Homo sapiens: one gene and its partners. The protein of the gene in region 2 purifies or fractionates together with the protein of the main gene of each other region. This does not show direct contact. Each region holds a gene or a part of one and is shown on either strand. Other genes may lie near its edges. The genes, in order: TMEM33, DNAJC18 and KLC1.

Region 1 (3,658 bases), on a different chromosome or scaffold from region 2:
AAAGAAACAAACACTCCCCTCCACCAAAAAAATTACACTGGCTCATCAGTAAATCTAAACAGCCTATACTAATTATTGTTCTTGGTTAAAAAACACAATTACAATATCCCAAGAATTATATATATGTTTATGAAATACCAGGTCTGGAATTCTTCCCTAAGAAAAACTATCTGAATTAAGACATTCACTGAAATAACTACAAACAAAATGTGGCAACAACCTAATGTGAACTGTAAGGAAGTAGAATTGAACAACTTATATTATGGTTATTTAATGGATTTAATATGCAACTACCTAGAATCTTGGTTATGAAAATTACATAGCAACTCTGAAAAAAGCAGAATATAAAACTACACATATTATTACAATTGTATTTTTTTAAATTGGAAGAAATATATTAAGATGCCAAATGTGTTTTATTAGGTTTTTTAGCCTTTTCTTCTAAATTGTATCATTTTCATTAAAAAAAATTTACACGATTACGAACTTACCACTAAACAAATGCAACATCCATTTTCCCTAATAATTTGACAAATTTTTATCTTTTTAAAGTGAAAATGTAAGAGACACAACATAGAAAATATAAATAGAAAATATTCACTTAAAAAACAAGTTTCCCATCATCCAAGTTAGCCCCTTCCTCAAACTTATACCACAATCTCGAATATGTCCTTCCAGAAATGTATATATACAAGTGTATATAATGACTAACATTGATAGTGCTCACTTTATAATTCACTAAATCTGTTTAACAACTCTAGGACAGAGATGGTTTATCATTCCCAAAAAACTGAGACAGAAACGTCTATGTCCTTACACACATACACCCCACTAAATATAAATGGAGAACACCCTACACAACTAAGTTTAACTTATTATATCTTGGTGATTATCCCATATCACAACACATAAATTACCGCAATCTTTTTTACAGCTTCAAATATACCATCTAATGCTTGGACTATTATGTAACAAACTCCGTACTAATGAATATTTGGGTGGCTCCAGTCAATTAGAAGAAAAGCCACAATGATCCTTTTACCTGTCTTTGCACACATGTGCAACGCATGTGTAAGATAAACTCAGACAATGCATCAATTTTTAAATACAGAGCTTGAAGCATTACTGGCACAAATGTAACTTGATAAAGCCTCCTAATATTAGACTGTGTGTATACCAGAAAGGGTAGCATATTAAGAATAGCAGTAATGTAAGACTGTTCTTAATTTTATTGTTTAGGTCATATTCAAACTACCTACTTAAGGCATTAACAGCTTTTCCTAATAGGAATTAAGTACCACTTTATAAGCTGATTTTAATTTTTCAAACAAAATTATTTCTCTATTTAAACATTTCTGGTAAATTCTCATCTTTTTTACAGTAATCTTAAAAATTAAGATGGTAAGTTTGTACAAATAAATGTTTAAATTAAACATTTAAGGAGCACAATTGAATTAATGTACCAACGCAGTCAAAACCTGGTGCTCCTAACAAAAAATTCACTATAGTTCCAAAGTGAAGTTTTTGTCTAAGTTTGCATGGCATCTCAGAATTTCATTAAAATTATTTTAATCTGATTTAAGAGGAGCATAAGAAATTATTTTGCTTACTAAACAGAATCTGGAGGTTTCAGGATATAGACATCAATTATACCCATACAAAAAAACTAGTCTCGGTATCTATCTTTTTTTTTTTTTTTGAGAGGGAGTCTTGGTCTGTCGCCAGGCTGGAGCGCAGTGGCACGATCTCGGCTCACTGCAACCTCTGCCTCCAGGGTTCAAGCGATTCTCCTGCCTCAGCCTCCCGAGTAGCTGGGACTACAGGCACACACCACCAGGCCCAGCTAATTTTTGTATTTTTAGTAGAGACGGGGTTTCACCACATTGGCCAGGATGGTCTCGATCTCTTGACCTCATGCTCTGCCAGCTTTGGCTTCCCAAAGTGCTGGGTTTACAGGCTGTGAGCCACCGTGCTCGGCCTGGTATCTACCATTTTAACTTTCATCTAGTTACATGAAACAAATCACAGAACCTGTGATCCTGACCCAAAAGCAGGATTAAGTGACACAAAAACCCGAGAAAAATGAATAACAAAAGGGAGCAAAAAGTTCCTCTTACTAATTAATAATTAAAGTTTCTAAGTGTAGATCAGGATCACAAAAGAAAGAGGTGGAAAGAAAAACCTATAAATGATGGAAAAAATATTAGAATGTTGATGTTGTCCCTTTTTCTGCTGTCCCAGATTACATTACCCTTTTCTTTTATATGCTTTCAGCTTCTAGGATAAGAGGATGCTTTTATTAAATTTTAGGGTCAAGGTTTTAGAGTTAATTTACAAATACAACTGCATCAAATCTAGTTGGGACCATACAACTTAAGCAACACCAGCCAGTCCTGGAGTTCTCAGAAGAAAGCACTACTTAAAAGAATGAAACAGATATATATTTATAAGGAAATCTATAAAACTCTGTTCTTAGTTTGAAGAGACTGCTATAGAAAGAAGTAACTGTCAAGTACATGAAAACTTTACTAGTTAATCAAGGCAAGGTACATTTAAAATTATAAAATATAACTATATGATCAATAAGGACATTTGTTACAAACTAACAAAATTATGAAAAACAGGTAATACAGACATTTTAAAGAACAATTTAGCATGGTCCATTAAACACAAAAGGCACCTAGCTTGTACTAGCAAAATCAATTCTGGTATCTATGTTAAAGAAAACACTGGCATTAAGTATAAGCAGGTAAAAAATATTTACTGCATCAATATTTGGAAAACTGAAAATTTGGAAACATATTCCATGATCAGGAGATAAGTTGGAATGTTATACGGCTAAAAAAAAAAAAAAAACAGAACTGGATATGCCAAATCAATTAGGTTATGAAAACATACAAGTGGGAAAAAGGTACAGAATAACACTTTTTTTTTTCCTTTTCTTTTTTTTTTTTTTTTTTGGTGAGACAGAGTCTCACTCTGTTGCCCAGGCTGCAGTGCAGTGACGTGATATGGGCTCACTGCAACTTCCACCTCCCAGATTCAAACAATTCTCCTGTCTCAGCCTCCCGAGTAGCTGGGATTACAGGTGTGCACCACCATGCCTGGCTAATTTTTGTATTTTTAACAGAGACAGGGTTTCACTATGTTGGTCAGGCTGGTCTTGAACTCCTGACCTCAAGTGATCTGCCCACTTTGGCCTCCCAAAATGCTGGGATTACAGGCATGAGCCACTGTGCCCAGCCAGAATAACATCTTTGATGTAAAATAAGAACTAAACAAATTAACAAACAAAACTCCACATCCATAATATATATGTTCTACAAATTTGTATAAGTATTTTTAAAGGACTACATACATAGACACATATTAAACTCCTTACACCTTTGGGAAGAGGACAAAATTGCAGCAAGAATTCATATAGTCAAATGCTATTTTAGCTTTTATCTGTAATGTCTCATTACTTGTAAAACTAAAAATTGATAAAGCAATCATCTGGGTAGCAAGGTGTATTGTTTTAAAATGTAATGCAAAAATTTCAATGCAGAGGTCAATACTATTTTAATGTTCATACTTTTAAAAGGATGGCTTTCTTTATTCATGTATTACTTCTATAATTAAGATACAAACAAAATAAGGTGATAGTAGGCACTATTAA
Region 2 (3,070 bases):
GAAAGCCTGGCCTCCCCATTAGATGTGAGCTCCAGGAGTCTTGGTGCTGGGCCTCACCTGTTCCCTGACCCCCATTCCAAAAACCCAGCCCACCTGGCTCAGAGTAAGTTCTCAATCATTGCTGAATTGAATCTCATCTCACTTTCTTTTTCAAATGAAAGCTATCATGACCAGTTAGGATCATGTAAATATCATTTACTATATTTTTAAACCAAAACTTTCCTAAATATGGGCCACTAGGACCAAAGCCAGCAAGGAACTGGGATAACACCTGAATTTCTGATGCTAAGTGTAGTTTTGATCTGTATATTGGCTGTGAGGTACTGCAGCTGCTGTTATCTGATAGAAAATGTGGAACTGATGCCAACAATGCTATCTACTATTCTAAATGCAAATAATCCCACTGACGGGTGAGGGAAGACTGGAGCAGGCGTCAAAAGCTTCTTTAGTCGGAAGTGGCTCCAAGGGAGTCAGGCGATGTGCAGTGGCCAAGGATGCCATGGGCAAAGGTAAAAGAACCAAGGAAAAGTAGCCATTCTTTTAATATAAAATTGTTTAATGTTTTTCTTTGTTGCAGTACACTCAATCCAGATGTAGTGGATGAGGTGGCCAGATTTTTTCAAGATTCTTAGTCCACCAGGAGCTGATTCCATTTGTGTCATCCCTACTCTGGTCACAGAACATTCACATCTTTAATTCCAAATACTGAGCGTGATGTAAATGATGTAATCAGTATCTAACACGAGTATATACTTTCTTGGTGGCCACTGCATGACATATCAACAGTGCAGCCTCAAAAAAAAGATGTTTTGTAACTTGGCCCTTTCCAAAAATAAATATATTAGGACACTAAGCTTATACCTTAAATGAGGGCAGAATAAATATGAATGAAGTGCAAGCTCCTGTGAGGAGCAGTGCATGCAGATGATGTACTTGCTTGTATGGTGTGGCCAGCTGTAACAGAAAGCCACTGGAACGGCACAGTGCCTCCTCACAAAGCCCATCCTGGGTATCATGAGGAAAAAGAATGACACATAGCTTGGCCAGGCTGCTGGAACCCATGTTCCAGTGGCATCTGGAGTTCACTGTATTTTCTTTTTTCTTTCTTTTTTTTTTTTTGAGACAGAGTCTTGCTCTGTCACCCAGGCTGGAGTGCAATGATGTGATCTCAGCTTACTGCAACCTCTGCCTCCCAGGCTCAAGAGATTCTTCTGCCTCAGCCTCCTGAGGAGCTGGGATTACAGACACGTGCTACCATGCCCGCCTAATTTTTGTATTTTTAGTACAGACAGGGTTTCACCATGTTGGCCAGGCTGGTCTGGAACTCCTGACCTCAAATGATCTGCCTGCCTCAGCCTTTCAAAGTGCTGGGATTACAGGCATGAGCTACTGGGCCTGGCCAGTTCACTGTATTTTCGAACAATTTCCAACAGAAAGCACAGCAGTGACGTTTCCTTACTGGTCACTGCTCCCGTGCTGTGAGGCCTGGAGCTGATCAAGGAAGCTTACACATTTCCCGGCCTGAGCAGATGAACTCTAGGGTTGCTAATCTGGGGACGTGGGTTCCTTCAAGCTCTTTGTGATGAGAAGGATTTTCATCCTCCTTTTCTCACTGCCGATCGTGCGGTAGAGAGAGCATCTTCATTTGAATGAGAGCTTCAGTTTCTGCTTGAGCCTCAAGCCCTATTTCTGAGCGCTGCTCCTCTCACACACGTCTCCAATCTGCAGTAATGCTCAAAGAAACAGTCTAGAGCTGGGTGCCAAGCTCCGGCAGCAAGAATAAGCCCTACCTAGTTATGTATGATCAGGAGATCTTCCAAAGGACGTAGGCGAGAGGAAAAAGCTTATTTTACCACCATGCAGACAACCCATCTAAAATATAACCCAGGAAATTATAGCTTCACAATATTCTGGATAGTATCAAATAGATAAATCCTTCAACCAAAAGCAAATACGGTTCCCTTGAGGAAAAACAGATGTGAATGTTGTGGTCTATTGGCAATAAATAAAACAGTACCATCGGTGCTATAAAAACAGACAATCAGCGTGACATTTAATGGAGTTAGTTATTATTGCTTCTATTTAGTATCATCACAGATTACTTATCGCTGCCATGAAGTCCATAAAATGTGTGACTACCTGATTCCTGGGCATCTAGGACAGGGTCTTTTAACCTGTCAAGTCAGTTTCATTATGGCCAATTTTCTAGCAGTGGTTGGGGATGGGGAGAGGAGAGCTTTGATTTTTTTGTGTGTAGAAGAACTTTCCATAAGCCTGTTTGGCTCATGGACATATTTTACAATGTAACCTCCCTCAGTCACTCAGAGGGGATCAAGAAGGGCCCCCTAAAACCAGGAGGACAGATCTAGTTGGGCAGCAAAATCTGGCTATTTCTAGAAATGCTCCCTCTCCCTGCAACTGAGCAGTTGTCCCCTACAAGCCACTAAAGCCCCCAATCTTTACCTGTGAACCCATCTCCTGACTCTGTGGAATGCCTGCAGAGGCATGGTAGGGAACAACCGTTCAGATGTTGATGAGCCATGCTAGGCACGTCTGTGTAAATCATGGCCATGCATTGGGATGAAGAAACTTTACTTTGGAATCTGTTTAATGTAGACTCTTTTTTTTTTTGAGATGGAGTGGAGTGCAGTGGCGTGATTTCAGCTCACTGTAACCTCCACCTTGCAAGTTGCAGCGATTCTCATGCCTCAGCCTCCCGAGTAGCTGGGACTACAGGCATGTGCCACCACACCTGGCTAATTTTTGTATTATTAGTAGAGATGGGGTTTCACTGTGTTGGCCAGGCTGGTCTTGAACTCCTGACCTCAGGTGATCCACCTGCCACAGCCTCCCAAAGTGCTGGGATTACAGGCTTGAGCCAGTGCACCCGGCCGACTCTCTACCAGAAACTTTTCTTCCAATATGAAGGAAGCATGGAGTGTAGGCTACAGTCACTTAATGATCCTTCCAAGTTCAGAGTCATGATAATTCAGGCAGCTCAGCTCCACAGGAAGGCCCAGAACCACACAGCCCAGGCAGTGACTGAATTCTTCCTAGTCACCAGTGGAGG
Region 3 (3,658 bases), on a different chromosome or scaffold from region 2:
ACAGACCCATGCTATGGAGGAAAAAGCCACCTTAAAAGTAATGTTTATGAAAATATTTTTATGACTGAAAGGTACTCACACTAAAAATGTAAAGAAAATAAGCAGTATACATGATGATATGGACGGTATGGTTTGAAATCTGTAAACCAAAGGCACAGAAGGAAGGAAAGACATTAAAAATGTGAAAAGATGAATTTGGGTGATTCTCCTGTTTCCATTTCTGCATGAATTGGGTAGGTCTCTGCAATGAGGACATGAAGATGGATTTGGGTGATGCTCCTGTCTCCATTTCTGCGTGAACTGTATAGGTCTCTGCAATGAGGACATGTTATGGGCTCTGGGCACTGTAATCCCAGTCTAACTGCTTCTCAGCTACGGGGCCTCACACAAGTCACTTAGTCTGTGGTGTCTTTTTTTTTTTTTGAGACAGAGTCTCACTCTGTTGCCCAGGCTGGAGTGCAGTGGCACGATCTCGGCTCACTGCAAGATCCGCCTCCCGGGTTCACGCCATTCTCCTGCCTTAGCCTCCCGAGTAGCTGGGACTACAGGCGGCCGCCATCACACCCGGCTAAGTTTTTGTATTTTTAGTAGAGACGGGGTTTCACTGTGTTAGCCAGGATGGTCTCGATCGCCTGACCTCGTGATCCACCCACCTCGGCCTCCCAAAGTGCTGGAATTACAGGCGTGAGCCACCACGCCCGGCCTGTGGTATCCTTGCTTTTAAAATGGGGTAATGTTTGACCCGCTGCACAAGACTGCTGTGAAAGTGAAGTGAAATCACACATTTAAACTATTTAGCTTAGTGATGTACAAAGTTAAGTGCTTAATAAACAGTAACTAATACTATTAGTATATTACTATTAGTCAAGTCATTATACAATTAAATTCACTTGAAACGGGAGTATATTTCTTACCATCTACAGAACCAAACTCCCTTTCATGTGCACGAGTGAGAATCTCTTTGTACAGTGTTTCTGCTTGCTTGAACTTTCCTTGTTTCAAATAGCAGGATGCCTTAAAATAAAATAAAATAAAATATTTCATATCTTTCAGATGTAAATAAAGCATACATTTTAATCTCCAGTTAAATGAGAAAGTGTTTGGACTTGGGACGAAAGCACTCCTGGCCCCCTCCCTAGTGCTGTGCAGTCAACACACCAGGTTATTTTTCGTCTTAGCCACGTTGGGGTCATCAGGTCCCAGTTTTGTCTGGTAGATCTCGAGGGCTCTTTGATAATAATATTCTACTTCTTCATACTTGCCCTGGTTCTGGCACAGTAAGGCCAAGTTATTTAACTGCTTGGCAACATCGGGGTGATCCTTCCCCAAAACCTGAAAATAAAAAACAGCATATTAGAGACACTTGTTCTGCTTCCATCCAATCCATTCTCCACCCTACTGTCACATCAGGATCTTCCTCAACATAAGCACGACTGTGCTACACTTTCAGATTTAAATCCTTAACTGGCTCGCTACACCACGTAGTAATAAAATAACCAGAATTTCTCAAATTCTTATTCATGAGGGGAGGGAGGGAACTGTGCTCATCTTCTTTAGCTGTGTTAATTACTGTAGTAATCCTTCATGGTAGTTATATTTTTGTACATTGGTTGTACTATGTACAAATGTACACATTAGGCACATTTTGAAGATAAGGAAATGGGCTTTGTAAAGGCTATGTGAGTTTTACTGCCAGCTTCTGAAGAGCCCACAGCTGTCCCAGTTGCCCAGGATGCTCTTCTCCTAGCCCTCCCTACTAGCTACGACTTATCCTTCAGGGTTCTCCTCAGTTCCCCTCAAAGGAGACTTCCCTATACCACCCCACCTCACCTAGTGAACTCACAGGCACATCACCTGGTTGTTCTTTATAAGAATCACTTCTCTAAACTACCTTGAATATTTTTTATTACAATGTAAGCCCCAAGAGTATAAATTCTTTGTCTCTCTTCTTCACCAATGTAATCTCCGCATCGAAAAAGGGGTCTGGCACAGAGATAGATGAATGAACACTAACCTCCTCCCTCAGTACCTTGAACAAGTGATGAGTTCTCTCCGCTTTGTGCCTTTACACATGTGGTCCTCAGGGAGGTAAGCTGCCTTTCTACTCCCTTCTGCATTCCCTACCTCCCCCTGCCTAGGACACTTTTAACTCAATTATTCAAGATGCAGTTCCAACACCGACCTTCCCTGAGAAACCATCCCCAACACCCCCTGGCTCTGGCCCGCAGAAGCCCACACTTCATATCCTCCCAGAGCTCTCTATTCTAGATGCTGATGTGCCCTCTGCGGTCCTCAGTCTGTCCAGTGGACTGTGTCCTAGTGGGAGGAACTACATGTCTGATCTGTAAATCACCAACTCTAAGCAGGGGGCTCTAAATGAATGAAAGGGTAAATATATGAATGAATTTGGCAGGTCATCTTATATGGTTCCTAATCCTTAATTTGATACTTTTGTGCTCTCCCTGACTTTAACTCCAGCCCACCCCAAATTCAACCATTCTATTTCAGAAATATCATGCAGATTGACAGCATGATAAAATATTACCTGTATAATTTGATAAGGAGCCCCTTTTTATTTTCTCTCCCCCAATTCCTTGCCATGTGGCTCAAAATTAACTGATAAGAATCACTGATAAATAATCACAAAAAATACCAGGTTAAAATACCATTTGTGCGGCTGGGTGCAGTGGCTCATGCCTGTAATCCTAGCACTGTGGGAGGCTAAGGCAGATGGATCACCTAAGGTCAGGAGTTCTTGGCCAGCCTGGCCAACATGGTGAAACCCCATCTCTACTAAAAAATACAAAAATTAGCCGGGTGTTGTGGCACATGCCTGTAATCCCAGCTACCCAGGAGGCTGAGGCAAGAGAATTCCTGGAATCCAGGAGGCGAAGGCTGCAGTGAGCCGAGATCGTGCCACTGCACTCCAGCCTGGGCGACACAGCAAGACTCCGTTTCAGAAAAAAAAAAACACAATTTGTGGTCACTCATCGGATAGACCCAATACCCGAATCTTCATAACATCTAAAGAGATTGTCATACACAGCACTGCTGAAATGAACAAGTTGTTATATTTTTTAATACCTAATTACCATGAACTGTAGCAGCTGGTATTAAATATATATGACATTGACTTAATCTATAGCTCTGAGTTAATCTTTAGTTATAATAATAATTATTTCATTTTTCAGCTTCATAAAGCATATTTGGTGAATTTATCTTTAATCATGTTTTTCTTATTGACAAGCACATGTTCCACTGTCAAATGCAATGCTCCCAGGCTTTCCATCTCTAGTCCTCAGACATGTCTTCTTCAATCAGAGTCACTTCTAGGCCATATCAGGCTTGGACAGCATCAGACTCAGGACTGCACCTTTCTAAATGCACACGCCTCATAACTGGACCTTCTTTTCTTTTTTTTTTCTTTAGAGACGAGGTCTCACTATGTTACCCAGGCTGGTCTTAAACTTCCTAGGCTCAAGTGATCCTCCCACCTTGGCCTCCCAAAGTGCTGGGATTACAAGCATGAGCCACTGCACCCAGCCTGTAATTGAGTCTTAAACACTGATTTGTATGGGCCAATCTGGCTTTGTTTTGTGGGCTATTCTCTAATTAAATGAGTTGTTTTCAGCTAATAGTCAGTTAAAAACACATCACA

What was found.
Region 1: the proteins of DNAJC18 (region 2) and TMEM33 purify together in Homo sapiens (affinity purification with mass spectrometry, with the first as the bait; one large-scale study listed by BioGRID). This does not show direct contact.
Region 3: the proteins of DNAJC18 (region 2) and KLC1 purify together in Homo sapiens (affinity purification with mass spectrometry, with the first as the bait; one large-scale study listed by BioGRID). This does not show direct contact.

Annotation. Positions count from the first base shown.
Region 1 is NC_000004.12:41,945,276-41,948,933, reverse strand, and holds part of TMEM33 (transmembrane protein 33), read right to left. Parts: intron 1-3,658. UniProt on the Homo sapiens protein: Acts as a regulator of the tubular endoplasmic reticulum (ER) network by modulating intracellular calcium homeostasis. Mechanistically, stimulates PKD2 calcium-dependent activity. Suppresses the RTN3/4-induced formation of the ER tubules.
Region 2 is NC_000005.10:139,409,668-139,412,737, forward strand, and holds the end of DNAJC18 (dnaJ homolog subfamily C member 18), read right to left. Parts: 3' UTR 536-3,070; downstream 1-535.
Region 3 is NC_000014.9:103,670,688-103,674,345, reverse strand, and holds part of KLC1 (kinesin light chain 1), read right to left. Parts: intron 1,333-3,658; coding exon 1,159-1,332; intron 1,015-1,158; coding exon 915-1,014; intron 1-914. UniProt on the Homo sapiens protein: Kinesin is a microtubule-associated force-producing protein that may play a role in organelle transport. The light chain may function in coupling of cargo to the heavy chain or in the modulation of its ATPase activity.